Linked DNA regions of Homo sapiens: region 1 is linked to region 2. The links come from fine-mapping of genetic effects on gene expression. Tissue or cell type: whole blood. Region 2 holds a variant in brackets; the other region holds the start of a gene. Each region is shown on its reference strand, or each on the opposite one.

Region 1 (15,860 bases), not on the chromosome of region 2:
ATAATTTTAAGTTTGCTGAAAAGTTGCAAGAATTATTTTTAAAAAACTCATGTCCATCCTTTACACGGATTTACTAATTTTTACATTTTGCTACATGTGCTTTGTAATTTGTATGTGGAGATGTGGGTGCATATACCTATTTTTTCTGAATCATTTAAGAGTAGATTGTATATTTTATTCTTTTGAATATTGCATTATTTCATAACATAACCAAAATATAGCTATTAAACATCAGAAAATTTAGCTTTTGGTACAGTAATTTTTTCTCATCTATAGGCCACAGTTCGATTTTATTAATTGTCCCAGTATTGTTGGATTTGTCTGAGGTTTCCTGTAGATTAGCTTCAGATTATGCATCCCTGGCCAAGATACTACAGAAATAATCTTGAGTTCTTTCAGGTAATCATGTCTGAAGGCATGTGATGTCCATTTGCACCTCAAGGGTGATGTTAATTTTGATTAAGATGTTTCCATTGTATAGTTTCAAGATTAGTAACTATACAGTGGGGACTGTGTAGTTACTAATTTTCCCCTTGCAGTAAGCAATCTTTGAGGAGATACTTCGAGACAGTGCAAATTTTCTTCTCCTTGTTTAACTCCCCCACCCCTCATAAGCATTCATTTTCATTCTTGCCCAGTCTAGTCTTTACTATGATGGTTGCAAAATGGTGGTTTTTTTTTTTCCCCAACTTCTCCTCTCCCTTCATAATATCAGTTTGTGTCCTATTTTAAGGAAGAGCCTGCCCTCCTCTCCCCTGTTTATTTATTATCCATATGGGTTATAATATACTGTACTTAGTTATTTTCATGTTCAGACTGTCCCAGATTTGTGCAGTAGGAATCTATTCATCCTATCACATCATTTGACATTTTAAAAATAGTTGGTATTTTCATAGTTTCTGGCCCATGTTGTACTTTCTCTGCCCCGGGCCTGGAATCAACTATTCCTCCAAGGAGCCCTTGGTTCTATTTAGCAGAGAACGTTACTGAGAAACCAAGATCTGGGTATTATGTATGCTCATGGTTATGGAGTATCATTAATTCTACGACCTGTCTGCAGACAAAGCTAGAAAGAAAAATATATCCATACACTTAAATATATGTAAATATATATATTTATGAGGTCCTACTGATACCTTCAATTCCAATCCAACCCCACAAAGTTGTTCTGTGTTTTCCCCTAATTCATATTAGTATCACCTTCTTCCCTAGTAAGAATGCTGATTCCCAAAAACGTCAATTTACTTGTTTGTTTAATTCTATGATACATCTGAAATAGTTTTAAAATGTTACACATGGCCGGGCATGTTAAATGTGCTATCCAGCGCTTTGTCAAAAAATGATTAATTAAAATACAGTATCAAAAATGTACACTAGGCTAGGGCGCAGCGGCTCAAGCCTGTAATCCCAGCACTTTGGGAGGCTGAGGCAGGTGGATCACTTGAGGCCAGGAGTTTGAGACCAGCCTGGCCAACATGGTGAAACCCCATCTCTACTAAAAATACAAAAATTAGCCAGGTGTGGTGGCACATGCCTGTCATCCCAGCTACTTGGGAGGCTGAGGCATGAGAATCGCTTGAAACTGGGAGGCGGAGGTTGCAGTGAGCCGAGATTGCGCCACTGCACTCCAGCCCTGGTAAGAGAGCAAGACTCTGTCTCAAAGAAAGAAAGAAAGAAAGAAAGAAATGTTACACACATACCACTAGGAAGAACAAACCTACCTAAAAGGCTTTGAAGATTTGTTTGCAATTCCATTTTCTCTAAGGGTTTAAAATACTGTGTTCAAAAATTATTTGAACTTTTCCCATCCCTATGAGTGTATTCTTTATGTGAAATAGAACTAGGTTCATTTGGTTTTGCATTATTTAAATTCCTTTCTTGTCCCCAGCTCTGGCTATAGAATAGCTTACTTTCAAAAGTGAAACTATACAAAAAAGTATACTCAGAGATGTGTCTCCCTCCCATATCCCTCTTACCAGATGATCCAGTTTTATTATTTTTTGGTTTATTCTCCCTCCCATATATTTGTTTTAAAAGTTCTCTTATAAAAAAAAAGTGACATACCTTATATATTATTTTGTACTTTGCTATAGGTGTCATACCGACTGGGTCATGTTTTTGTATTTTTACAGGCATGTTATAACTATGGTAAAAGATAGCTACATAGTCATATAAGTATTGAGAGGCAATTGTGTGTTGGTTCCCAACTGTGAGTGCATATTGGAATCAGCTGGGGCATTTAAAACAATTTGGATGCCTAAAAAATTACTGATATTTGGGTGCCACCACCTGAGTTTGACTTAATTAGTCTGATGTGGGCCCTGGGCATGGAATTTTATAAAGATCCCAGGTAATTTTAGTGGGCAACCAGCATTGAGCCACTGGTATGGTGGTTAAAAAACAGACTTCACCCGAAATAGATCTGGGTTCAAATTGGGCTCTGTTACTGTTGATGATTTCTTACTTTATTTAGTATAATAATTTGCCTTTGAAAAAAATGGTAAAGAAAAGGCAATAGGAGTTTAAATTGGTAGAAACTCTTCAGAGGGTCATTAACCCCATGCATCTATAGCCCCCCACTCACACTGGACCCAGCAATTGCACTTCTATGAAATTACCCTAAGAAAATTATTGTATAAAAAAGAGATGTGCACTACTACTCATTTATAATGATAACATTATTCATAATAGTATCAAAAAGGAAGATCGTTTTCTAAATATTTGTTATACTATGTTGTATCTAGTCAGTGAGATAGTACAATGTATTCCATAAAAATTATGAAGAACGTATATCTGATAGAATCATTATATAGCAAGTTAGAAAAAACTGACACAAAATAGTGCCTAGAGCAAGACCTTACTTTCCAGTTAAAAACATACTAATATTCTCTTTATTGTCTTTTCTTTTTTCCCATTAAAAAATGTTTTTAAGCAAGTTCTACTTTGTATTTTTTAGAAGCCAAAATGCTAAAAATTTTGTTTTTTAAAATTTTTCTACCTACTTTTTAATGTAATTTTTTAAATTGGAAAATTCCTATCAGTTTTCTATTCAATTATGCACTGTGGATTTAGTACATATTGCATATATATATACCGAAAGCCAGTGCCTGTCAATCTAATTGCCATATTATTTTTAGGAATGGGTAGGAGAGCATTGCTTAAAAGAACCTGAAAGATTATGTACAGACAAAGAACTTATATTGGACCCTGTGCTTTCAAATATGCAAGCACAGAAATTACTGCAGCTTATCTGTTATCCTCATGGCATTAAAGAATGTACCGAGGGGGACAATCTGCAAAGACAGCACATTAAGCGTATTCTTCAGGTCAGTCGTATACAGATTGTGTTTCTGTCATTTGATAAATTCTTCGTAATAATAAAAAGAGTTACTTCCTCTCTTTTTTTGTCCTTGCTAATTTGTGATTTCAATTCTGATTTTTATTCCCACACATTTTCTGTGGAATTGACATACTTTATTTTTGGGTGGATGTACATGCTGCAAATTGTATATGATCATCAAACAAATATTGATATTTTAAATCAGTATTGTATTTACATGAGAAATATGCTTCAGAGAGGGGCTATGTTAAATATATTATTAAAGAAATATTGAAATCATTTTGGATTGGGATTGGTTAAATAGATTTTGAAAGGAGAAATGCTTATTTAGTTTCAGTGCATAGCTGAGTCAGGCACAGTATTAACTAATTAATAATTAATGTTTCTGTTTATTGGTTTGTATCGCTACTGAATATATATGCAGCAAGATTGGGAACCTTTTGACTCATATAAATTATTTCATTGTGTATGATTATTCTGCTCTTTCTTGAGAGAAGGAGTACTGTAAGAAATTACTGTATTTTAACACATTTGATACCCATAATGTTTTAATTCTTTCCATTTTTCCCAGAATCTTGAGCAGTGGACACTGAGGCAATCCTGGTTAGAACTCCAGCTAATGATCAAACAGTGCTTGAAGGACCCTGTGAGTTTATATTGAAAGCTTATCTCTGTATGAAATTTTATAAAAAGCAAAAACACGTTGATGTTTGAGGATAAAGGAATACACATATGTGCCAGTATTCTTATATCTAACTCTAGGGCTCTGGTTCTGTGGCCGAAATGAACAACTTACTGGACAATATTGCAAAGGCAACAATAGAGGTATTCCAGCAGTCTGCAGACCTAAATAATTCTTCTAATTCTGGCATGAGCCTCTTCAACCCAAACAGTATTGGAAGTGCTGATACAAGTAGCACGAGACAGAATGGAATAAAGACATTCCTAAGGTATTTTTGTCTGTTGTTTTATTGAACTGTCATGAATTTTTCACAAGTAACGGTAAATTTTGTGTAGCACAGTGATTTTTCTTTAAGTCATAGGAATGTGAAGAACATAGTTACTTGTAAGCAGGGATTATTATTAATAAGTTAATGAGTAAAGCTGGGGTGAATGATAGCTTCGGAATATTTGATTGAGTAGGCTTAAACACCTTGAAACTGCAGGTGAACTCAGGTTTGGTTCATGCTTTCAGTGTCCCTTAGTCTACTGTGTTACGTAGTATTCATTATATGGGAAACGCTTTTTCCACCATTTTTATTAATTAATTATTTTGCACAAATATATCCTGGTAATTTTTGTGCAGAATTAGAACCAGTAGGCATATAAAGTCTTAAAGTAATTATTTAATCATGAAAGGCTGATTTGTATTTCATCATTTTGGTATAAAGTATAACTAGCGAATTTTAAACCTTAAAAATTAGCTATTAGTATGCTTACATATAATATTTCATATTGTAACTGTGACAGAAAAGTATATTGTTTGTTGGACAAAGTGATTGTTTTTAATTAGAGAGAGGGGGTCATCGGAAAACATTAAAGTCAGTTTAGTTACAATATCCTTCCAGAACTGCATGTTTTATTGCTTTCTGTAGGCTTAGGTGGAAAGCTCATGCAAATGTCTAGTGTTCGGAAAAAGGAAAGATAATACAGAAATAAAAGGGAAATTTTAGAACAGTCTGTGTGTCTCATACATCAAAGTTTCGCTTTGGAGTTTCTGTTATAACTGTGAGAGCAGGGGAAAGGATGCTTTCTCCGGTGTAACACCTGTTTCTGATTTTAGTTCCTCCGAACGCAGGGGTGTATGGTTGGTGGCCCCCCTCATCGCCAGGTTGCCAACTTCTGTGCAAGGAAGAGTGCTGAAAGCCGCTGGGGAAGAGCTGGAGAAGGGACAGCACTTGGGTTCTTCTTCCAAAAAGGAAAGGGACAGACAGAAACAGAAAAGGTGTGGCTGGAAGATGGGCGTCTGTGTGAGAGTTTAAAGAATAATTGAGAAAGTCTCACTTCCTGTAAACCTGTGTGGTCACTGTACCCACAGTCCACTGAAATTTAGTTTTTAAATGGAACTGGGAATATTCTATTAGGCAAGGCTGTCTTATTCCTAAAAAATTTCAGGTTATAATCCTTAATACATTAGTTCTCAATTCTGCCTTTATATCCAAATCACTGCTGAACTGTTAAAAACAGTGATTTCCGAGACCCGCTTTAGACCAACTGAATCAGATCTGGATAGCTACCTGATCCCTGTATTTTATTTTTAATTATTTCTATTTTTTTATTATTTAGATATTTATGTTTAAAATAAATATAATGTATAATTCTGGCATGTTGGTGTCTGAACTAGTTGCTCATATTTTTAACATTTAGGGCTCCTGTTCTAGACTAGACATTAAGACTCCTCGGCCACCACAACTAATGTTTTCTTAATTTATTTTATGCCCAAGAAAAGGTTTCAAGTAATTATATTTGAAAACCGTGTTACTGAGAAAGAAAGAAACCTCACCCTAATGTGAAAATGCCAAGAAACCTAGGAGTAAAGGAAAAAAATTGATAATTTCTTCCATTAAAAAAATATTTTAAGCACATAGATTTCTTGTCCACTAATGAATAATACTATAGTAGCCACCATTTATTGACTGCTTACAGAATGGCAACTCCTCTCTAAAACTCATTATGTACATGAGCTTTTAAAATTCTTATAGCAATCATGTGGTAGGTACTCTCATTATCTTCTTTATATCATGTTGAAACAGACACTTAAAGGTTACATGAGTTGCTCCAGGACACACAGTGAAGGACATAAAGCCTGGGTTTAAATCCAGGAGGTCTGGCTTCTGAGCTTGTGCTCTTAACTACAGTACATTTTGGTAGAGACCCAGCATTGTATGTACTGTATTTGTTTTACATCTGGTTGTTTTACCATGTTGGCCAGGATTAATTAACCAACAAGGAAGCATAATTCTAATTTTCAAATCATATTTGCTGATAGGTGAGTGTATGTGCATTGCCTAACTTCCCATAGGCAGGACAGATGGTATTGAAGAGACTTGAAAGATCGCTCTTCCCACATCAGGGGCTCTTTATTCTGCCCATGGAGAATAATGCTGATTGAAATATTTTGGCCTAGGTCTCATTTTAAGAAATTTGTCTTTCCAACATGGCGCTTTGTTTGTCAATATGATTTGTTGATTATTCTCTAATTGAAGACATTTTGTTAAAATGCCAATTTAAAACAGAATTTTTAACCAAATGCCTTGACACCTCTTTACCAGTGGATGCTGCGGGCTATGTTGGAGCCTGTGGGCTGTGTTGGAGCTGCACACTAGGGGTCGCCAGCAAGTACACTGTTTTTGGAGTCCTCAGCCCTGGCTGATGAATTAGCTCTACTAACACCCTGCTTTTTGGTCTTGGGAAATGTGCTGAAAAACAAAATCAAACCCCAAAACAAGCTCAACAGACATATATATAGGCCTGTTTTCCCAGACTCTAAAACAAGAGTTTTATATGAGAACTTTAAAAATTTTTAATTTTATCCTGTGTATAAATTGATATTCTTTCTGATGTACATTTTTAAATTCTGCATATTGATGTAGAAGATGAATTCACTGTCTTCTACCCTCACTGCCCGGCATGCTCACATGCAGTATGGTTTGATGCTAGTTTGAGAATGGCTTCGAGGGCAATTAGAGCATACGAAGTGATTTAGAAGCATTACAGTGGCTTTTAATTTTATAAGTAGAGGTATGATTTAAATTTTCAAGCAGTCTTTGGCTATTTACCACCTCTCTTATTTATCTAATAGTGAGGCAAAGAAATGAATGTTGCCAGAGGAAGTAATGCATTATTTCTAACTAGATCTGTTGTTATTATTACTTCCTTTGTAGTATGTCTCTTTTGAGTCAACAACCCTTCCTCTCACTGGTACTTACCTGCCTTAAGGGACAAGATGAACAAAGGGAAGGCCTCCTAACATCTCTCCAGAATCAAGTTAACCAGGTAAAGTATAGTATAATATTAAGACAGGCAAATATCTTTCTAACGGCATTCATTTATTTGCCTTTCAAATACTGAGATTAAATTAATAAGGGCCAGGTGTGGTGGCTCATGCCTGTAATCCCAGCACTTTGGGAGGCGGAGGCTGGTGGATCACCTGAGGCCAGGAGTTCGAGACCAGCCTGGCCAACATGGTGAAACCCCGTCTGTACTAAAAATACAAAAATTAGCCGGGCATGATGGTGTGCGCCTATGATCCCAGCTACTCGGGAGGCCAAGGCAGGAGAATTGCTTGAACCTGGGAGGCAGAGGCTGCAGTGAGCTGAGATCGCGCCATTGCACACCAGCCTGGGAAACAATAGTGAAACTCTGTCTCAAAAAAAAAAAAAAAAAACAACTAGTAAGGTTACAAAATGTTTTGAGTAGACGCTGAGAAACAATCCATGCCTTATTCTTCTACCTGGCATTGTAGACACCACAAGATTAACAACTTTATATTAATGAGATATATACAATAAATGTGTACTGCCTATAAAAGTAAAATTTTATATATTGCATATAACTTTGAACTATCTGCCCGTCTCCTAACTCTGCCTCATAGGAGAGGACCTGGAGCAATCTATGCTGCAGTAGGCATGGCAGTGAGTCCAGCTCCTCAAGCTTGGATGCCACATTATCAGGCACGCTTTCAGCTTGAAATCTGTAGGTTCAGAAACTCAGTTGTATTGATGCCAACCAAGTACACAAGAAATAAATCAGAAGGCATGTTGGTTTATTTAGAAATAATTTGGACATTGCCTTTTCACCAAACACAGTTCTCCTGGTCACTGTTTGAGGCTCTTGCATCTATGTACTATAAGGAAACTGAGCATTCACAACAGAAATTGGAGAGCATGGAATTAAGCAAAGTGGATAGATTGGTCTTATGAGGTGTTTTATCCTGATACACAGCCTAATTGACCCCTTCTTGTGGCACTGTGTTTCTATGACACCATGTCTTTCCCTCGAATGGTACTAGATGGACATGGACAAGGACACTTAATCTTATTTGATCCTCTTGTCATTTCTCACCTTTTGGGTAGGAGAGATCTAGATATAGCAATCATAGTGAACCTTTTTAAATGGAAGTCACATATTACCTCAGTATACCTAGTATAAAAAATTCGGGCTGATAAGGCCAGACATGATTTGACACTGGCTCTCTCTCCTACCTTGTCTCCTACCAGTCATGGCCCTCTTTCCTCCATGGTTGTTGCACTGGCCATGTTACTGTTCTTGAACTTGCTGAGCAAATTCTCATTTCAGTGCCTGTGCATCTTTTCTTCCCTTTAGGTGGAAAGATTCCCTTCCAGAGATTAGCATGGCCTGCTCCCTTCATTCAGTTCTCTGTTAAGATGTTACCTCCTTCGGGAGGCCTTTGATCACCTCTAAAAATAGGACCACAGCCATTCTGTATGCCATTGCCATGCCTCAAACCACTTGTTACACTTAGTTTTATTTGTCCCACTACTATTATTTGAGCTCCATGAGAGCTTGTTGTTTAGTTAACTACCTTGCCCCCTTAAGCCAGCCTTAGGGAGGGGTTCATTTCTTCTGATGAGATTTGGGAAGTGCTTTCCTCTCACCTTGCAGGGTACTTACAGGTCATCTGTTGGGATGGAGTACTTCTGCATGTGACTCATTTGAACTCTTTTAAGATGACTCTCATTAATGACCATATTTCAGAGCATGATAGGGTTTTTGTTAGTGGTTTTTTGTTTTTGTTTTGAATTGCACTTTTTTTTTGCTCATCTCATCTGATTTTAGGGTGTTGCCCACTTGTGGCTCCCTTTCCTAAGCAAATTTTTCCTTTTCCAGCATTAGTGTGAGTCAGTGAGGAAGTGAAGAAGCAGCCCACTTTATAAACTGATAAAGCCACTTGGCTGATGTCTGCAATGCCATATTTTTCAAAGTACCGTGCGTTCTCTTTATCAAGGAAGACACATACATAAGATAGCAGACCTTCTCTTCTATAAAACATCAAAATAATACATTTGCTAGGGTTCAGCAAGTCCCTAGAAATATAACAGGACTGAGGCAAAATGTAATTCTCTCTCTCCAGTGTTTTTCTTCGTAAGATCAATGAGGTAATGTATTTTAAAAGTTTTTATTAATGCTTAATTTGATGGCCCTCTCAAGCATTTTCCCAGACTTAATCATAGGCTAGCTATATAATTATATAAGATTTTCTTCCTCCACCTAGAACGGCAAATGCACAAATAAATAGCCAGATTTCTTTCTGCATGGAGGAAGAAGAAAGCTAAAATTTTATTTAGCTTTGTTTGTTAATTTGTTAAAGATAAGAAGTGGTTTTTTGCTATCAGTATAAAGCTCAATTTATCTTTAAATGAGAGAAAAATTAAACTTTAATGGGGAGTTTTTTTCCGGATCTTAGATTTTAAGTAACTGGAGAGAAGAACGATACCAAGATGACATAAAAGCGCGGCAGATGATGCACGAAGCATTGCAACTCCGCCTAAATTTGGTAAGTGACATTTCTAGTATTTTCCCTCCATTAAACATATTTACATGTGAAAATACCTCCAGCTTTCCACTTCTCCTAAGTGCAAAGTCTGCATTACAAGGTGAGGCCTTCCACTCTTTGCTCTCTGTAATTACTTCCCTGTTTCTAAAGCCTTCTGTTTCCCTTGCTGCTTTCCTTCCTGTCTGGTCAGACATCTAGACAGTGCTAGGTATTTTAAGCATAGATTTGCCTTCTCTACCTCTACCCCAGTGAATCTCTCCTTCTCTTCAGTTTGTGCTAAGAATAAATCTGAGAAGACTGTTATAAGTGTTAGCTTCTACTATACTTACTTAAAACCATTTAAAAAGTCTTTTAACTCAAAGTTTTGTCCAACTTTCCATCAAATTGATTATAAAGACAAATCCCACAGAGAAGTTTTATAGAAATTTAAAATGTCTCACATATTGTGCATTCCTTGAGTTTTCTTTTCCCATCAGGCAGGCCCAAGTGCAGGCCCCTCTGGAGGATGGCCTGCCTGATACTTTTGCAGTTGTTTCTAACCTTGTCCCAACACGTGAACTGGTAGGTGTGCGGGCCAAGCCTCCTGCCCACCACTGCTGTGATAGTGGATGTTTCCATATGGTATTATGATAGCAGGCTTAGATTCAATAGTAATTGTACAGCAAACACAAAGATGCAGATAATTGGATTACATGACTTTGACATTATTCAGGTTTAATTCAACTATAATTGCATCATAAAACTGGACATCATAAAAGATTTGGAACAAAAGAAAGCTAAGTTTATTGGTGCCCACATTCAGATACTCACGTCCCTTCTTCATTTTAGTTAATGTTTGAATGACTGAACTGTGCTGAAAGAACTAAAAATAGTGATAAACATGTAGGTAAAAGAGAAAAGATAAGGTAATCTATAAACTAGAGCATCCCTTGTTTTTTTAAATAAAAAACAATCAAAATTTGATAACATAAAGCAATGGGGTGTTCTTTCTGTTTTACAGAATGCAAATATCTTACTGTATTTTGTCTGCTAGGTAGGAGGAATGTTTGACACGGTGCAGAGGAGCACCCAGTGGACTACAGACTGGGCCCTGCTACTCCTTCAGATCATTACTTCAGGAACTGTTGACATGCACACTAACAAGTATGTTTTTATCACTTCACATTGATTTTGCTACATGTATGCATGGTATAAGCTTTGATATACTGATGGCGATTTCTGCCACATCTTATTTACTTGGATGCTATTAAAAATTCTGTGCCTTGAATAAAAATACTCAGTTAAATAAGTGTATTTCAGTTTCACTTTAAGATGAAAATAATTATTTTCTTTCTTAGTGAATTATTCACAACAGTTCTTGACATGCTGGGTGTTTTAATCAATGGAACGTTAGCCTCTGACCTATCAAATGCATCCCCTGGGGGATCTGAAGAGAACAAGCGTGCATACATGAATTTAGTAAAGAAACTGAAAGTAAGTTTGAGATCAGCCTGTATTATGAGCTCAAGTTGTTTATGGATTTATTATCTAGTGCATTTTAATTTATTACTCATTAAATGTTATTAATTGTATTCAACTTAATTTAATGTGATTATTTGCTATTTGTTTCACCTAACCTTATTAGTACCCAGAAGTTACATGCACATAACCTTGATTATTTTTTATTGAAAACAATTACATTATAAAACATGTTTAATTTTTTAAAGAACTTTAGAAATCCACTGTTAAATATATAACCAGAATACTAACATTAGATAGATTTAGGATAACTCTATGCTTGGACTGGCACGTGTAATTGAAAAAATAGCCATCTGCATTGAAATTTATAAATCGATTCATTTGACCGACCACTAACAGACTCCTTTAAAAAAAAATTGTAAGAAAACAGTGCAAAAAAGAAACCAAATAAATCTGATGCATTACCAATCAAATAAATCAATGGTTACCTTGTAATCTGACCCTGGACATGAGAAAGTGTTCTGTTCTGCAGCTCCTGTCTTCTGATTGTGATCACTACCCTGGATTTTTGTCATTTCAGCACTATGATGTTTGTTGTGTAACAACAGTGCCTTTGTATGTGTTCTATTTTCTACTTAAATAGAAGAAATGAAACACTCATTGCTCTATTTGGAACTGCCTTGTAGAACATGTTCAGGGTTAAAGAACATGCGCTAAGCTATAAAAAGGGAAATGTTTCATAGGGGAACTTCCTTCTGGTTAACTTTTGCCTTCATTGTAATTTCTGTCCCACTTCTCACTCTCTCTCTCTCTCTTTTTTCTTTAGAAAGAGCTAGGAGACAAGCGATCAGAAAGTATTGACAAAGTTCGACAGTTACTACCTTTGCCGAAACAGACATGTGATGTCATCACTTGTGAACCTATGGGTTCCTTGATTGACACAAAAGGAAACAAAATTGCTGGATTTGACTCTATAGATAAAAAACAGGCAAGAGTGAATGTTTTTTCTTATATATAAATTTATTTACAAAAGATGAAATACTTTTTTTTGTCTTACCATAGGATATATAAAATATATTAATTTTGCTGTTGATGTTTTTAAGGCATATGCTTGTCTTCTAAGTGTACTTAGTCATTGGCATTATCATATAAAGAGGTCATATCTTTGAAGATCTACGTTTTATATGTTTAAAGGACTTAAAATGTTTCCCTGAATTTAAGTAAATTTTTGGAAACCTACCAAGAGAAAACTAAGTAAAAGCTTAGTGTAAAAAAAAAATTGCATAAATAAGTTCTGATTATACTTCAGATTTAGAAGCAGAATATATTTATCAATGAAAAATTTCTTGTAAGCTGAGCATGGTGGCACATGTCTTTAGTTCCAGCTACTTGGGAGGCTGAGGCAGGAGGATTGCTTGAAGCCAGGAGTTTAAGGCTGCAATGTGCTAGGCTCATGCCTGTGAATAGCCACTACACCCTAGCCTGGGCAACAAAGTGAGACCCTGTCTCTGGGGGGGGAAAAAAAAAAAAAAACCTTCCTGTAGTAAGCTATTTCAAATAAAAATTATTTTAATTGTTAGGATATTCTCTATTCCTATCAAGCAGTATTTAATGGACATTTGTTTTATATAAGATATTAAAGATGGTTCTCTAAAATATGAGAAAATTGGTCAGTTACTCTTTTAATGAACAGTAAGCAACCACCGACATTCCACAATCACCAAGATGAAAGACAGAGTTCCTACCCTCAAGGGGGAAGTAGACAGACAATTACAGTGTAATGAGATTTGTGTGACATGGTACAGAGAGAGTATTAGGGGATAGAATAGAGGGTCCCCAGGAAAATTGACACGAGTCATTTTGAAGGATTAAGAGTTAGCTGGGAGGTAGGGAAAATTGTGGTACAAATAAAGGGAGAGTTTATATGAAGACATGAAAGAATCAGATTTACCAGGGAATTTAGAGTAGCCTGAGAATCTAATACCAGTTTGTGTAAAGAAAAAAAGCTAAAGTCATGGTCAAGTTTGAGTTTGCAGTGTCAGCGGACTTCCTGGTAGTAAGACATCTGGAATCCATTTGGATGTGTGGTTTTTACACCAAGGAAAAAGTTCTCATCTCAAGACAAATATTAGGAAACAGTCAATTTACAGGTGGCAATTGAACCTTGGTTTTATTTTGTTTTACTTTGTTTATTTATATTTTTTGAGATGGAATCTCGCTCTGTCGCCCAGGCTGGAGTGCAGTAGTGCGATCTTTGCTCACTGCAACCTCTGTCTCTCGGGTTCAAACGATTCTCCTGTCTCAGCCTCCTGAGTACCTGGGATTACAGACATGCACCACCAGGCCCAGCTAATTTTTTTTTGTTTTTGTCTTTGTTTTTTTTTTTTTTTCAAGACAGAGTCTTGCTCTGTCACCCAGGCTGGAGTGCAGTGGCGTGATCTCGGCTCACTGCAACCTCCACCTCCCGGGTTCAAGCAATTCTCTGCCTCAGCCTCCTGAGTAGCTGAGATTACAGGTGCCTGCCATCATGCCTGGCTAATTTTTGTATTTTTAGTGGAGACGGAGTTTCACCATCTTGGCCAGGCTGGTCTTGAACTCCTGACCTCGTGATCCACCTGCCTCAGCCTCCCAAATTGCTGAGATTACAGGTGTGAGCCACCACACCTAGCCTTTTTTTGTATTCTTAGTAGAGACGGGGTTTCACCATGTTGGCCAGGCTGGTCTCAAAGTCCTTACCTCAGGTGATCCCACCCGCCTCAGCCTCACCAAGTGTTGGGATTACAGACACGAGCCACTGTGCCTGGCCTGAACCTTAGTTTTAGATGAAGCTACTCATAAAAGAATGCATATAGATAACAACAGTAACACTTACATCTTAGGGAATGACTGAGTAGTTATTTGGGGGCCATTTAAGGAAAAATATTTTTAAATTGACATTTTAAGGCAAGTGCCAAGAGATGTCACCAATTAATGTTAAGAATAAAAAGAGGGTAACCGTTTTTTTTTTTCTAGAGTCAGTAAATATAAGCTTGAGTTGAAAGACTTTACTTATTCCTGCTGCTACAATTTAATTCTCTAATAATAATATTATATTCAGAGTATGGCTTATTAAGTACAGGGCCCACATATTGAACCAAGTTCATGCAGATTTGGATTGAAGTTAATACTAACCCAATTACAGGTTGACTATAACTTGACTCTTAAATTTGATATTATCTTCAAAATTATAAATAGATTACAGAGATTTAGAACTGGTTATAATTTAGTAAGATTAACTTTGCAGTGTTAGAATTTTTAGCAACAAATTTTTAGAATTTTTTTAGCAAAAAGAGGAAATACACATTAACAATAAAATATGCTAGACTGCCTCTGTTGCCTAAACAGAGCATCATGTGGTTAAAGAACTGTAGAACCGGGCTTACAAAGGTCTGAATTCTAGCCACTGCTCTCCGGTGATGTAGCTGTGTAACCCTCTCTGCTGTATTCTCGGGTTCTCTAGGGCTCATGCCAGCCAAAGTGTTCTCTGACTCCATGTCCCATACAAGCCTGGCCTATGAATAAGGAAAAGATCTGAGTGTGCTATCTTAGAGCGCTATTTTCCCACAGGGTCTCCAGGTCTCTACGAAGCAGAAGGTGTCCCCGTGGGACTTGTTTGAGGGTCAGAAGAACCCAGCTCCTTTGTCCTGGGCCTGGTTTGGGACAGTCCGAGTGGACCGAAGAGTGATCAAGTACGAGGAGCAGCATCACCTCCTGCTGTATCACACACACCCCATGCCCAAGCCCCGCAGTTACTACCTCCAGCCACTGCCCCTGCCTCCTGAGGAGGAAGAGGAAGAGCCCACATCTCCAGTTTCTCAGGAACCAGAAAGGAAGTCCGCTGAGCTGTCAGATCAGGGAAAAACCACAACAGATGAAGAAAAGAAAACAAAAGGAAGGAAGCGCAAGACGAAATCTAGCTCAAGAGTTGATGTAAGTGGGGAAAGGAAGGAGAACCTTGGCTCATTAGCATTTAGTATGAGATTTACTCGTGCCCAAATCATATCCCTCGAAACATTACCAAGAGCAGGATAAGTTTTGTTATGACAGTTCTCCTAACAGGTTTCTGCATTAACTGAATGGCACACAATGACTTGTCACAGACAAAAGATTAAAGCTTTTGATTTTCCGTCCTCCACTTTTAATAATTTTATTTTAATTGTAGGCTTCCATTGTAATATTTAATTAATATTTCAGTGCCTCCTAATTTCCTCGGGTTTGAAACTTGAAATTTTTAGAACTATACAATCCCATTCTCTCACATATTTTTAATATGTCTAAAATATTTATTGTATTTTAAGTGGTTGATATCTTCAGTAAATTAACATAAAAAGCTCTATTTGGTTTTTCTTTGATAAAACTTGGAGTTAGCATAGCCAATAGGATGTTCCTGAGATTTTATGTTTTACTATTCCATCTTACCCTCATATATTTTCCTTCTTTACCATGTTTTCAGACTTTATAAAAGATGAAAATAAGCCTAATTTAAAATAGTTTTACTTCTTGTTT
Region 2 (15,860 bases):
AAAAAAAAGAAAGGATTCGTGAATTTGCATGTCATCCTTGCGCAGGGACCATGCTAATCTTCTCTGCATCATTCCAATTTTAGTGTATGTGCTGCTGAAGCCAGCACTATATATATATATTTTTTGAGGCTCAGTCTTGCTCTGTCACCCAGGCTGGAGTGCAGTGGCATGATCTCGGCTCACTGCAACTTCTGCCTCCTGGGTTCAAGCCATTCTCCTGCCTCAACCTCCTTATAGGCGCGCACCACCACGCCCAGCTAATTTTTGTATTTTTAGTAGAGATGGGGTTTCACCATGTTGGCCAGGCTGATCTCGAACTCCTGACCTTGTGATCTGCTCATCTTGGCCTCCCAAAGTGCTGGGATTACAGGCGTGAGCCATCGCGCCCAGCCTCTTTCTGTTACTTCTTTGGGGTCTCTTAATGAAATGTCCCCTTCTGAATAAGGTCTTCCATGACCACCCTATTTAACTCTTCTTCCTTGTTCCTCTTTTCTCCCTAACATAAATGTACCATTCCAAATTGTGCAACATATAGCCCAGCACCCATGGCATGAGCCTGTAGTCCCAACAACTCAGGAGGCTGAGGTGGGAGGATCCCTTGAGCCCAGTAATTGAAGTCCAGCCTAGACAACAGAGTGAAACTTCATCTCTAAAAAAGAATATATATATATATAATAAATTGTTCAACAAAGTGGAATTGTCCACTACCCTCTTTTTCCATTTTGTTATTCTCCACAACACTTGTCATCTAACTTACTATATAGTTTACTTTTTTTTTTTGAAATGGGGTCTCACTCTGTCACCCAGGCTGGAGTGCAGTGGCAAGATCACGAAGCTCACTGCAGCCTTGATCTCCTGGGCTCAATCGATCCTTCAGCCTCAGCCCCTGGAGTAGCTGGGAATACAGGTGCATGCCACCACGCCCAGCTAATTTTTTATCTTTTTTAGAGATGAAGTCTTGCTATGTTGCCCAGGCTGGTCTCGAACTCCTGGCTTCAAGCAATCCTCCTGCGTCTGCTTTCCAAAATGTTGGGATTACTGGTGTAAGCCACCCCCCACTGGCCCTAGCTTACTTATTTTTTTGGTTTATTGTCTGCTCCTACACATTACCCCACCCCTCCAGCTAGAATGCAAGTTACATGAGGGTAAACATACTTGTCTGTTCTGTTCACTGCTTTATCCCCAGTGCCTGGCCCACAATTGACATTTAATAAATATTAATAGAATAGAATATAAACATTTACAAACATAGTTATTCATAATTATAGTCTTTTTTGTTTGTTTTTGAGACAGAGTTTTTGTTCTTGTCACCCAGGCTGGAGTGCAATGGCGCAATCTTGGCTCATTGCAACCTCCTTCTCCCAGGTTCAAGTGATTCTCCTGCCTCAGCCTCCTGAGTAGCTATGATTACAGGCGTGCACCACCACGCCTGGCTAATTTTTGTATTTTTAGTAAAGATGGGGTTTCACCATGTTGACCAGGCTGGTCTGGAACTCCTCACCTCAGGTGATCCACCTGCCTCAGCCTCCCAAAGTGCTGGAATTACAGGGGTGAGCCACCGCGCCTCATCTATAGTCTTATTTTTTTTAATAAAAAAATAAAATCATGACATATAAATTACTCTGCAACTTACTTTTATCATTTAACATGCCATTGTTATTTCTCCAGGTTAATGTATATAGATCTAACATTCCTTTTTTTTTGAGACGGAGTTTTGGTCTTGTCACCCAGGCTGGAGTACAATGGTGCGATCTTGGCTCATGGCAACCTCCTTCTCCCAGGTTCAAGTGATTGTCCTGCCTCTGCCTCCCAAGTAGCTGGGATTACAGGCGCTCACCACCATGCCCAGCTAATTTTTGTATTTTTAGTAGAGACGGCATTTCACCATGTTGGCCAGGCTGGTCTCGAACTCCTGACCTCAGGTGATCTGCCCACCTCGGCCTCCCAAAGTACTGGGATTACAAGTGTGAGCCACTGTGCCCGGCCTAGTTGCATATTATTCCACAGTCTAGATGTACGATAATTTATTAACTCATTCCCCTGTTGACAGATGTTATTTCTGGCCATTGTAAACAATTCTATAATAAGCATTCTTAAATATGTATCATTAGGTATTGGGCTGTGTTTTTATTTCTCTAGGAGAGGGTATATCCATGTTTAGTTTTACAGGATATTGCCAGAATACTTTCCAAAAGACTGTAACAATTCCAACTTCCACAACATCTGGTCCCTCTATGGCAGCTACCTAGGTTTGTTTTCAAGGTGTTTCACAACCTGGACACAAAGTACCTTTCCAGTTTTATCTCTGTTCTCTTTTCTTTCTTTGAATTCTGTTCCATGAAATCGATCCTTCAAAGATTTCTTATGCAACCTTTAAGACATTCTGCTAAGTGAAATAAGCTAGATGCAAATAGAAAAATATTGTATGATTCCATTTTATGAGGTACTAGAATAGTCAATTCATAGAGACAGAAAGTAGAGTAGTGGTTACCGGCTGCTGGGCAGAGGAAAGAATGAAGGTTACTGGTTTTTTAATTTATTTTAATTTAATTAATTAATTAATTAATTTTTGAGGCAGAGTCTCGCTCTGTCACCCAGGCTGGAGTGCAGTGGCGTGATCTCGGCTCACTGCAACCTCCGCCTCCTGGGATCAAGCAATTCTCTGCCTCAGCCTCCCATAGCTGGGATTACAGGCACCCGCCACAAAGCCCGGCTAATTTTTTGTATTTTTAGTAGAGACAGGGTTTCACCATCTTTGCCAAGCTGTTCTTGAACTCCTGACCTCGTGATCCACCCACCTCGGCCTCCCAAAGTGAGCCACCGTGCCTGGTCTATTTTTATTTTTTTGTAGAGATGGGGGTCTCACTATTTTGTCCAGGCTGGTCTCGAACTTCTGGCCTCAAGCCATCCACCGTCTTGGCCTCCCAAGTCCTGTGATTACAGTCATGAGCCATGGCGCCTGGCCAATCATAGAATTTTAAAGTTAGGGCCTGGCCGGGTGTGGTGGCTCACGCCTGTAATCCCAGCACTTTGGGAGGCCGAGGCAGCCAGATAACCTGAGGTTGGGAGTTCGAGACCAGCCTGACCAACATGGAGAAACCCCGTCTCTACTAAAAAAATACAAAATTAGCTGGGCCTGGTGGCACAAGCCTGTAATCCCAGCTACTCGGGAGGCTGAGGCAGGAGAATCACTTGAACCCTGGGAAGCAGAGGTTGCGGTGAGCCGACAGTGTGCCATTGCACTCCAGCCTGGGCAACAAGAGCGAGACTCCATCTCCAAAAAAAAAAAAGTTAGCTAGGGCCCTAGAAAGCTCTGGTCTGAACCTCTCCCCTTTCCAGAAGTGACAGCTATAGTCCATCCAGAGAGGGTACAGAGACTTGCAGAGTTCTCTCACTGATTAAAGCAAAGTCACAACAATAACTAATGTCTCTAATTCAGTCAATTGTCTTCCTCCCACAGCACAATTACCCCAACAGGCTGGAGAGCTAAGAATCAAGCGATCTTCTGCAACAATATCTGACTTAAAATTTGTCAGTTACTACACAGAAAAAGGAGCCAACCATCCCCATGAACCAACCATACCACACTTTTTCCTCCTTATGGTCCTTGTAGAATATCTGGCACTGAGGTAGAGTCCTTGAGGTAGGACTGGGATGCAAGAGAGGCAGTACAACAAACTAGAGGAGTGGACTGTGGGTAAGAACATGGTTTAGAGTCTCCTGTGCTCAAACGTATGGCTGCTAAAACAGTTCTGTAGCCTTAAGTAAATTATTTAACTGCTCTAAACTCCATGTTGCTCATCTGTAAAATGGGTTTAATAATCATCTACTTCGTAAGGATTTTTTATTTTATTTGTTTTTTTTGAGACGGAGTCTCACTCTGTCACCCAGGCTGGAGTGTAGCATGCAATGTCGGCTACTGCAACCTCTGCCCTCTGAGTTCAAGCGATTCTCCTGCCTCAGCCTACCAAGTAGCTGGGATTTCAGGTGCCTGCCACCGCGCCCGGCTAATTTTTTGTATTTTTAGTAGAGACGGGGTTTCACCATCTTGGCCAGGCTGGTCTTAAACTCCTGACCTCGTGATCCACCCGCCTCGGTCTCCCAAAGTGCTGAGATTGCAGGTGTGAGCCACCGCACCCGGCCAGGAATTTTTTTTTTTTTTTTTTTTGAGACAGAGTTTTGCTCTTGTTGCCCATGCTGGAGTGCAATGGCAGGATCTCGCTCATTGCAACCTCCACCTCCCGGGTTCAAGAGATTCTCCTGCCTTAGCCTCCGGAGTAGTTGGGATTACAGGCACCTGCCACCACACCTAGCTAATCTTTGTATTTTTAGTAGAGACGGGGTTTCACCATGTTGGCTAGTCTGGTCTCGAACTCCCGGCCTCAGGTGATCTGCCTGCCTCAGCCTCCCAAAGTTTTGGGATTACAGGCATGAGCCACCATGCCCAGCTACTTCATAAGGATTTTAAAAAATGTATTCAATAATGTATTTAAAGATTTAGCACCGTGCCTGGCACATAATAAGTGGGCAGTAAATGTTAGTATTACCTTTAAGCTGCAAAGCCAATGACAACCCACTGACTGTGATGCCAGGCACAGTAAATGTGTGAACAACTCTCCTTGAGGAATAAAAGGACAAGCCTTCACTTCTTCCAGATATAAGGCTTAACACCTGGTATTCCACCAGAAATTCACCTTCTGTCAGAGTACACTGTAGGTCTATAATTTGCATTGTATTGTTCAATTTTTTATTTTATCTTATTTTTATATACAGACTGGGTCTCCCTGTGTTGTCGAGGCTGGAATGCAGTGGCTATTCCCAGGCACAATCACTGCGCACTACGGCCTCGAACTCTTGGGCTCAAGCATCCTCCTGCCTCAGCCCCTGGGGTAATTGGTACTACAGGCACATGCCACAGCGCCCTTGTATTGTATTGTTTTATGTTTCCTTGATTCTACTCCGACTATTAGAAAAATTCCTGGGTGGCTGGGCCCGGTGGCTCACGCCTGTAATCCCAGCACTTTGGGAGGCCAAGGCGGGTGGATCATCTGAGGTCCGGAGTTCGAGACCAGCCTGGCCAGTATGGCGAAACCCCGTCTCTACTAAAAGTACAAAAATTAGCCAGGGGTGGCAGGCGCCTGTAATCCCAGCTACAAGGGAGGCTGAGGTGGCAGGGAGAATCGCTTGCAACCGGGAGGCGGAGGTTACAGTGAGCCAAAATCACACCACTGCACTCCAGCCTGGCGACAGAGAGAGACTCCGTCTTAAAAAAAAAAAAAAAAAAAAAAAGGCCGGGTGCAGCAGTGGCTCACGCCTGTAATCCCAGCACTCTGGGAGGCCGAGGCGGGCGGATCACGAGGTCAGGAGATGGAGACCATCCTGGCTAACACGGTGAAACCCCGTCTCTACTAAAAATACAAAAAATCAGCCAGGCGTGGTGGTGGGCGCCTGTGGTCCCAGCTACTCTGGAGGCTGAGGCAGGAGAATGGCGTGAACCCGGGAGGCGGAGCTTGCAGTGAGCCGAGATTGAGCCACTGCACTCCAGCCTGGGGGACAGAGCGAGACTCCGTCTCAAAAAAGAAAAATTCCTGGGTAAGTTTGGAATCTCTTCTTGGAGGGCTCCTAAGGATATAATTTTCAGAGATGAGGGAAAAAATCCCTTTAGGATAATTAAGGTAATAGGTGTCCCTGCCCTAAGAGGAGTCAGGGATCAGGAAACCAAGGGATAGGGGAAAGCCAAGCTTCATCAAAATCATTCCCTATTGTGAAATTCTTGCATTCAGTAAACTTCTCTTTTCTCATTTTGCAACGCCTCATTTCTTTCCTCTCCTTTCTTTCCTTCTCTTTCTTTCTTTCTTTCTTTCTTTCTTTCTTTCTTTCTTTCTTTCCTTCCTTCCTTCCTTCCTTCCTTTCTTTCTTTCTTTTCTTTCTTTCTCCTTTTCTTTTCTCTTCTCTTCTCCTTTTCTTTTCTTTTCTTTTTTTTTTGAGATGGAATTTCGCTCTTGTTGCCCAGGCTGGAGTGCAATGACGAGATCTCGCCTCACCTCAACCTCCGCCTCCCAGGTTCAAGTGAGTCTCCTGGTTCAGCCTCCCGAGTAGCTGGGATTACAGGCATGTTCCACCACGCCCGGCTAATTTTGTATATATGTATATTTTTTGAGACGGAGTCTCGCTCTGTCACCCAGGTTGGAGTGCAGTGGCGCGATCTCAGCTCACTGCAAACTCCGCCTCCTGGGTTCACGCCATTGTCCTGCCTCAGCCTCCAGAGTAGCAGGGACTACAGGCGCCCGCCACCCACGCCCGGCTAATTTTTTGTATTTTTAGTAGAGACGGGGTTTCACTATGTTAGTCAGGATGGTCTTGATCTCCTGATCTCGTGATCCGCCCGCCTCGGCCTCCCAAAGTACTGGGATTACAGGTGTGAGCCATCACGCTCGGCCTGTATTTTTTTTTTTTAGTAGAGACGGGGTTTCTCCATGTTGGTCAGGTTGGTTTCAAACTCCCGACCTCAGATGATCCGCTCGCCTCGGCCTCCCAAAGTGCTGGGATTACAGGCTTGAGCCACCGCGCCCAGGCACAACGGCTTGTTTCTATTGGAAAACCCCAGAATTTACTCCCTATAACCCCTCTCTTATTCTAATCCCATCCCTTTCCCCGTTTGTCCCGCAAACCCCATCTCCAAAGCCGATTTCACGTTGAGCTCAAGTTGGCCTTTACAAACTGACTTCTCATGTTCCTCAGGCCCAGCAAAGCCTGGAACTCCACCTTAGGGAGATTGTTATTGCGACTATCAACTCCTGGCAGCCTTGGTTTATGTAGTTAACATGTTGGGCCTTTCTTGGCTCTACTCTATGGTTGTGCAGACTTTCTGTGAGGATGCTGAAGTGACCTGAGCGAGCATGAGGGAAGGGCTAGCCACAGAGATCATGGACCTAATGCGGGCGCTGAAAATAGGGATTAGGGCAGGATTCCGGTTAGAAAGCGCCAGTGTTAAAGGCTAAGGAGACACAGCGCCCCCTAAAGAGGGTGCGGTTTAAAAATCGCTAAATCAGTCCGACAATATCACGTGTCCTCGGCCCTACCAATTGAAAATTAACAATCGCTTCTTCTGTTCCCCATGGAAACAACCCCGCCCCACTAACCCTCCCGCCCCAATGAGTCGTGAGGTTTTGGCGTTTTATTGAGTATTCAAGCTGACAATCAAACACCTGAGCCTTCTGGTTGGACACTTTGCTTCCGGTAAGCAAGCTAGTACAATAATTGGCCAATAAAGCAAGCCTTACCCAATGATCCTTATCCTAGGCGGGGCCTAATGGGAACGTATGGCCAATCAGCGGCGGCGTTTCTTTTGCGGCTCCACGTCGGCACCAGCTGCGGGGCAAGATGGAGGCGCTGATTTTGGTAGGAGCTGGAGGGGCAGCAGAGATGCTGTGGTGTCCACAGGGGCCGGGAGTCAGGGTTCAGCCCGAGTGGGAGACGGGGAAAGAGAGTTCCGGGTAATTCTTGGGGACTGAGCGTTCTGCTGACCTTTGGAATAAGTGTGTGGCCTAGTGTAGGAGCTAAAGCCTTGGTTTAGAGTAGGAAGCCCTGCCGGGGAGAGGGCATAGAGTCGGTGGAAAGTTGAAGGCAGCACATGGACTCCTTAGGATACACAGACCTGTAGGCGTACTGGATTAGGACCCTTCAGGTTGCCCCTTATTTTTAGCATTGTGGATGATACCCTGATTTTAATTTACCAAACCACCAAACTCGCCCCATATTGTAAGAAAAGAATACAGATGTTTTGTCGTTACAGACTCCTCCTGATGGTTTCCCAAGTTTGACTCTCCATTGCCGATTCCCTGCCACATTCCTTCAGGAAACTGTTTTGTCTTCGGTTTCCTGTTAATCCCTATTATATAGGTTTGTCAAATAATCAGTATTCCATCAAAGTTCTGGGATACCTGATAAAGTTAGCATGGATTGTGGAATATTTTTTCTAGACTCCTTATTCTGTTCTCCTTTTCTCTACCCATTTAGACCTTAGGAATTCTTTTTTTTTTTTTTTTTTTTTGAGACCGAGCCTTGCTCTGTCACCCAGGCTGGAGTGCGCACGTGGCGCGATCTTGGCTCACTGCAATCTCC[A/G]CCTCCCGGGTTCAAGCTATTCTCTTGCCTCAGCCTCCCGCGTAGTTGGGACTATAGGCGCGTGCCACCACGCCCGGCTATTTTTTTTGTATTTTTAGTAGAGACGTGGTTTCACCATGTTGGCCAGGCTGGTTTCGAACTCCTGACCTCAAGTGATCCGCCCGCCTCGGCCTCCCAAAGTGCTAGGATTACAGGCTTGAACCACCGCGCCTGGCCAGGAATTATTATTATTATTATTATTATTATTATTTTTGAGACGGAGTCTCACTCTGTCGCCCAGGCTGGAGTGCAGTGGTACGATCTCGGCTCACTGCAAGCTCCGCCTCCCGGGTTCACGCCATTCTTCTGCCTCAGCCTCCGGAGTGGCTGGGACTACAGGCGCTCGCCACCACTCCCGGCTAATTTTTTGTATTTTTTAGTAGAGACGGAGTTTCACCGTGTTAGCCAGGATGGTCTCGATCTCCTGACCTCGTAATCCACCCGCCTCGGCCTCCCAAAGTGCTGGGATTACAGGCGTGAGCCACTGCGCCGGGCCAGGAATTCTTATTGTATGATCTAGGATGCTAATTTCTCCCTCTCTGGTTACATGAGAATTGTGGTCGCTAAAGGGCTGTATTAGCCCTCTTGTCCATATGATGCTTTATGCTTGTTCTAACAAATAAAATACCTGTTACCCCTTTTTAGAACTGGACCAGAGAATTTCTCTCAAAAGTGCCCTATTTTGCGATTTGGAGGGGTGTGTGTGTGTGTGTGTGTGTGTGTGTGTGTGTGTGTGTAGGTAGGTAGGTAGTATAGTGTAGGAATTTAACTCCCAGCCTTCTTCCTTAATTGGCTTGAACTCTAGGCCTCTTTCCAAAGAAGCTTGTCTTTTATTTTCCTTCAGATCTCCTAAGCATACACATTCAGATCCTCATCAGATAAAAGAATAACAGGTTTTAATTCCTCTCTTTCAGTTAAAGACAGTTAATTCCTTATGTCGGTTGGTCAAATATAGGTAAAAAGCTTAAAATCTGAGTAGTTTTAAATATTTTCTGTACCAAGCAGTTAACAAGTATTCTTTTTTTTTTTTTTTTTTTTTTTTTTTTTTTTTTTTTGAGATAGAGTCTGGCTGTGTTGCCCAGGCTGGGGTGCAGTGGTGCAATCTTGGCTCACTGCAACCTCCGCCTCCCAGAATCAAGCAATTCTCATGCCTCAGCTTCCTGAGTAGCTGGGGTTACAGGCACGCGCCACCATGCCCAGCTAATTTTTGTATTTTTAGTAGAAACAGGGTTTCTCCATGTTTGCCAGGCTGGTCTAGTCTTGAACTCCTGACCTCAAGTGATCTGCCTGCCTTGGCCTCCCAAAGTGCTGGGATTACAGGTGTGAGTCACTGCACCCCGGCCAGTTAGCAAGTTTTTTTTTTTTTTTTTGGAAACAGAGTCTCGCTGTGTCACCCAGGCTGGAGTGCAGTGGTGTGATCTCACCTCACTGCAACCTCTGCCTCCTGGGTTGAAGCAATTTCTCCTGCCTCAGCCTCACGAGTAGCTGGGACTACAGGCACGTGCTGCCACACCTGGCTAACTTTTTTGTATTTTAGTAGAGACGGTTTCACTGTGTTGCCCAGGCTGGTCTTGAACTCTTGAGCTCAGGCAATCCACCTGCCTCAGCCTCCCAAAGTGCTAGGATTATAGGAGTGAGCCACCGTGCCCGGCAGCAAGTATTCTTAATCAAGAGGTTGAGTGCAGTGGCTCATGCCTGTAATCCCAGCACTGTAAGAGGCTGAGGCAGGAGGATCGCTTGAGCCTGGGAGTTTGAGGCTGCAGTGAGCTATGATTGTGCCACTGCACTCCAGCATGGGTGACAAAGCCAGACCCTGTCTCTAAAAAAATAAGAATAAAAAACCTCCCCCTAAACCCAATTAGCAGACTAGGATAGATTCTAGGGAATTGGTTTTTTTGGAAGTTTTTAGACTTACCTATATATGTTTAGAAGGGAGCCTGCTTAAAGGTAAAGGAATGAGGAAGATAATAATTGGGGAGCCCTTTTAACAATGGGCCTGTGTGTAGTGGGTAAGCTGGGGGAGTTATATGTGAAAGTATCTCTGTCGGGCGCAGTGCAGTGGCTCATGCCTGTAATCCTAGCACTTTGGGAGGCTGAGGTGGGCGGATCACTTGAGGTCAGGAGTTCGAAACCAGCCTGGCCAACATGGTGAAACCATGTCTCTACTAAAAATACAAAAAAAAATAGCTGGGCGTGGTGGCACGAGCCTATAGTCCCAACTACTCAGGAGGCTGAGGCAGGAGAATCACTTGAGCCAGGGAGGCAGAGGTTGCAGTGAGCCGAGATCGCGCCACTGCACTCCAGCCCAGGCGACAGTGTTAGACTCCATCTCAAAAAAAAAAAAAAGGCCGGGCACGGTGGCTCACGCCTGTAAATCCAGCACTTTGGGAGGCCGAGGTGGGCGGATCACGAGGTCAGGAGTTGGAGACCAGCCTGACCAACATGGTGAAACCCGGTCTCTGCTAAAAATACAAAACTTAGCTGGGCGTGGCCACGCCTGTAATCCCAGCTACTCAGGAAGCTGAGGCAAGAGAATCACTTGAACCTGGGAGGCAGAGGTCGCGGTGAGCCGAGATGCGCCACTGCACTCCAGCCTGGGTGACAGAGCAAGGCTCTGTCTCAGAAAAGTTAAAGAAAAAGAAAGTCTCTCTGTCACATTTCTCTTCCCTTAGTTCTCTGTCTCTGCTTCTTCAGTGAAGTCTGTTTCAGCCTGCTTCTTCCTTATTCTTTTGCTTTAATCTATGCCTAATAGGCTGCATTCACAGATCCCTGCTAACTTGATCAGGTAACCCTGGACTTTGCTTTTAAAACCACACTGGTTCTTTGTTATGGGAAACCTATGTAATGCGGTTAGGGACAATCTGATCAAAGCATATTCTTCTGTCCTTAACTCTACAAGGTACATACATAGCTGCAGGATGTCGAGAAAAAGGGACAGGTAAGCTACAGGGGGTCAAGAAGAACTGTTGATCAAAGTTTGCATTGATTGTGGAATTTCTAAATAACAGTAAGTTCCCTTCTTTTAGGTACTTTACAGTGGGTCACATGGTCACATTTCTTTCTTGAATTAAGTAATCCAGCTCTAGCTTTCAAGCAGATTTGTCTAATCTCTCTCAGGTCTCCTTAGGCTCTAAGGAAAGAGACCCTTTCATCTCTTTTAGTTCCCAATGCTTAATAATAGTGATCTCAGCCTGCATCTTTGGACTTGGCTTCTTCTCTCTTGCTGTATCTGCTGGTTCTCGCTTTTTGAGTTGTGAATGAAGAGGATCTCTGCAGATCACCATTCTCCATTAATAACCTGTGGAATCTTAAAGATAAGGATTTCCCCTTCCTCCTTCCTGCTTTACTTTTTTTCTTTAAAGCTGAATTACTCGGGCCGGGCTCGGTGGCTCACACCTGTAATCCTGAGGTGAGTGGATCACCTGAGGTCAGGAGTTCAAGACCAGCCTGACCAACATGGTGAAACCCGTCTCTGCTAAAAATACAAAAATTAGCTGGGCGTGGTGGCATGCGCTTGTAATCCCCAGCTACACGGGAGACTGAGGCAGGAGAATCGCTTGAACCTGGGAGGCGGAGGTTGCAGTGAGCCGAGGGCCATTGCACTCCAGCCTGGGCAAAAAGTGAAACTCTGTCTTAAAAAACAAACAAAACTGAATTCTGTATCGGTTTAGATCTTTAAATCTTTGTTCATAGGTTTTATTTTTCCTAATCCTCTCTGGATTCACTTTCAGAGTGCTTCTCCAGTGCTTTACAGACTAGACTTCTAATTCTGTACTTTGTCTTACCTTAATATTTTAAAACCATAACCAAATCCTAAATTCTAAGCCTCATTAAAAAATCAGGCCATCCAAAGTGCACAAGGATATGAGTATGTATGGAGGAGGAAACTATGCAGAATATGTCAATGACTTTAAAGGTTGATGTTGCTCCTTGGCCTTTGCTTCCTGAATCATCTTAATGGGGCTTTTGTTAAATTCCTTTGGCCCTAACAGTAGAGGTACTTGGCCTAAATGCCCCCCTCCCCCTGCTCTGGGCAAAGGTATCAATTACATTAAGCCCCTAAAGCACTCCCATCTCGTTCCTGGCAGTCCCCTGTGCCCCTCTCCCAGCTGCGTCCTTGCTGGTGCCTGGCCCCCTCCATTTTGTTAGGAGAAGCAATCTCCTCATTCCTGCGCTGTGGAGATATATTTCTCAGCTAGGGCGCGAGCAGTGCCAGCACTGCCCCCGGTGAGGTCCCTGGCAGCAATAAAAATTTTTATTGTGATTATGTTGGTGTCGGGGTGTCCATCTGGGTTATTGCACACCTAGTTTAATTGATTGAAGTTTAATTTATTGACACTTCAAATTAAATGATCAGAATAAACTGTGCTGTTACTCTGGCCAGCTTGTTTTAATGGTTGATTGCTGGAAGCAGACCTCGGCTTGAACTAAAACCCCCAAAGAGCAATTGACGCTGCTTCTAACTCTCCCCATGTCTTGCCCTCCAAGAAGACCTTGTTATAGATTTCCGACGTATTTATATATATTTTTTCCCTCTTCTTCACAGTGGTGGGAAAGAGTTGGTCCCTGGCAAGGTATAAATTATATCAAAGATCTAGGGGAGCTGTCACATGGTCAGAAGAGGAGGAGGGGGCCTCCATGTGAGGAAAACCAGACCCTTGAGAAGCCAGGTCTGCCTTGGGAGGCAGAGGATGAGTGCAATTATCCAGGTATTTGACGGAGCCTAGTGGCAGGTTTAGGGTCTTTTTTATCTAGATACTTGCTGCTGTTTCTTACTTTACTCCATTGACATGGCTTGATTAGAGTCTGGATGTTGACAAGAAAACAGGTTGTGGAAAGGGAAACTAGAGGAGCAAATCAGATGGAGCAGGGATAAAGAATCAGTACCTATGTACCCACTTGTGCTGGAGTAATTAGGAAGAGGAAAGGCAGAGTGCCCAGGGGACAGCTGATGAAGATGGATTCAGAGAATGAGTCCATGCACTTGTAAGATGCTTGTGCTGGCAAGGGCCCTCTCACATTCTGTCCCTCCTGTTTTTGGGCAGAATAGGTTTCCTTACATCAGATTATTAGGGGGATCTCTCCTGGCCTTACATTCCCTAGCCTGTGTCACCTCTTCTGGTGTTTGACCACACCCATCTCTTCAGGAAGTCCTTCCTGTTGTGTAATCTAAGTTATATATGCTGCAGATGAAGCCTGCTTTTTTATTTGGCTTTTTATTTTCACACTCTTTTTTTTTTTTTTTTTTTTTTTTGAGACAGAGTCTTGCTCTTGTTGCCCAGGCTAGAGTGCAATGGCATGATCTTGGCTCACCGCAACCTTTGCCTTCCAGGTTCAAGCGATTCTCCTTCCTCCGCCTCCCGAGTAGTTGGGATTACAGGCCCCCACCACCATGCCTGGCTAATTTTTGTATTTTTAGTAGAGACGGGGTTTCGCCATGTTGGCCAAGCTGGCCTCGAACTCCTGACCTTGTGATCCACATGCCTTGGCCTCCCAAAGTGCTGGGATTACAGGTGTGAGCCACTGCGCCCGGCCTATTTTCTCACTCTCAATGCAGATATCCCATCCATAGCCAATTGCCCTGGATAGCTCGGTCAACTAATTTTCTGCAACTCCTTTTCTGTTGTGTGGTTTTAGAGGGAGACTAAAACCAGAGGAGAATAGAGCAATTCTGCCTCGGGGTTGATTTGGGGGCATAAATAGACTGAAAGATAACACAGAGTCTGTCAATTCAGTCTCTCAGAGACTAGCTTTTTGTTTTCAGGAGCAAAAGCAGGGAGATGTGGGGGGGAGTAAAGGGATAAATCATGATACAAATCGTGACCCAGGACTCATCAGGAATGGATCTAGCCCCTTTTGATTTTTTTCCTTTGCTGAGTGTTATTTAAGTGAGGGCTCCTGGATTACCAAACTGAGAAGGCAGAATGTTCTAATGGTGCTCTCAGGCCTCAGGTCTGGAGTATAGTCTGATTTCTCCTTATTCAGTTCATCTCTCTTCCCAGCAGTACTGCTTTGTCCCTCATTTCTGTGATTCTTTCACTTCCATGATAGTTGAAGAATTAGGGACTATGTGACCCCTGGGTAAAAAATCCTCCAGCAAGGCCGGGCGCGGTGGCTCACGCCTGTAATCCAGCACTTTGGGAGGCCGAGGCGGGCGGATCACGAGGTCAGGAGTTTGAGACCAGCCTGACCAACATGGTGAAACCCGTCTCTACCAAAAATACAAAAATTAGCCGGTCATGGTGTCACGCGCCTGTAATCCCAGCTACTCAGGAGGCTGAGGCAGGAGAATGGCGTGAACCCGGGAGGCGGAGGTTGCAGTGAGCCACTGCACTCCAGCTTGGGCGACAGAGTGAGACTCCGTCTCAAAAAAAAAAAATTTTCCAACAGACAGGCTTTCTGAGTTTTGAGAAAGGTCCTGAGACTTTGCATTCCTAAAAAGCTTAGGGTTTGGTTGTCTTTGTCCTGCCCATTTCACAGTCATCAAATTCAGCCATTGAAAGCTGGAGGTGGCTGGGCATGGTAGCTCACGCGTGTAATCCCAGCACTTTGGGAGGCTGAGGCAGGCGGATCACCTGAGGTCAGGAGTTCGAGACCAGCCTTACCAACATGGCAAAGCCCTGTCTACTAAAAACACAAAATTAGCCAGGTGTGGTGGTGGGTGCCTGTAATGCCAGCTATTTGAGAGGCTGAGGCAGGAGAATCGCTTGAACCTGGGAGGTGGAGGTTGCAGTGAGCTGAGATTGCACCATTGCACTCCAGCCTGGGCAACAAGAATGAAACTCAGTCTTAAAAAAAAAAAGGGAAAAAAAAAAAGAAAGCTGGAGGGAGCGTGGTTGCTGACCTTTATTCCCCCTGCTGGCTGTTAGTTTTCTCAATCATATTTATTAATTTATGAAGGCCACACACACATTTATTGAATTTATCCAGCATTACTGGATGCCAGGTAGAGTAGAGGGGGTGGTTTACAAAAGTATCACTCATTTCCCCTCTTTTTCCTGCCCCCTCCACACCATCTTATTATCTCCAGAGAGAATCTCATTTAATTCTAAACTCGGCTCTGTGAACTCTTTGAAATCATAAAAAAATTATTTTTATTTATATATATATTTTTTGAGACAGAGTCTTGCTCTGTCATCCAGGCTGGAGTGCAGTGGTGCGATGATCTTGGCTCACTGCAATCTCCATCTCCGGGGTTTAAGCAATTCTCATGCCTCAGCCTCCTGAATAGCTGGGATTACAGGCATGCACCACCATGCCCAGCTAATTTTTTTGTATTTTTAGTAGAGACAGGGTTTCGCCATGTTGCCCAGGCTGGCCTCAAACTCCTGAGCTCAAGCTATTTGTCCCCACATTGGCCTCCCAAAGTGCTGGTATTACAGGTAGGAACCAGCATGCCTAGCCATGAAATCATAAAAAAATTTGTGAATGTATTTTGCTGGGAATAAGGTCCATAGATGTAATTGGTTTATCAAAGGGGTCTGCTGTAACTCAAAAAAGGCATTAACCTTAACTGATCTAGGTCAAGCCTCTCATTTCTCTGATGAAGAAGCTGAATCTCAGAGAAAGGGAAAATTTGAGTTAATGGCTGATCCCCATTATAGTACAAGTATTGTAGCCAGGCATGGTGGTGCATGCCTGTAGTCCTAGCTATTTGGAAGGCTGAGGCAGGACTCCTTGAGCCCAGGAGTTCAGGT

The links. PIP is the estimated chance that this variant, and not a neighbour inherited with it, causes the effect.
Region 1: P2RY12 starts here. The variant in region 2 is the best candidate, but not a certain one, in a credible set for the expression of P2RY12 in whole blood (TOPMed, PIP 0.54).

The regions. Positions count from the first base shown.
Region 1 is chr3:151,372,889-151,388,748 of GRCh38, forward strand. P2RY12 (purinergic receptor P2Y12) reads right to left here and starts at 11,865. Exons shown (of 3, transcript NM_022788.5): 1 at 11,804-11,865. It overlaps MED12L (mediator complex subunit 12L), which reads left to right. Exons shown (of 45, transcript NM_001393769.1): 28 at 3,138-3,326; 29 at 3,912-3,986; 30 at 4,103-4,290; 31 at 5,124-5,285; 32 at 7,225-7,336; 33 at 9,768-9,857; 34 at 10,891-11,000; 35 at 11,195-11,330; 36 at 12,142-12,303; 37 at 14,922-15,284. RefSeq lists an enhancer at 5,180-5,249.
Region 2 is chr12:54,317,781-54,333,640 of GRCh38, forward strand. It overlaps COPZ1 (coat protein complex I subunit zeta 1), which reads left to right and starts at 7,351. Exons shown (of 9, transcript NM_016057.3): 1 at 7,351-7,401. The coding sequence starts at 7,384. It also overlaps the pseudogene RNU6-950P. RefSeq lists enhancers at 11,411-12,101, 12,102-12,791. The variant A/G (reference allele first, on the strand shown) is at 8,125.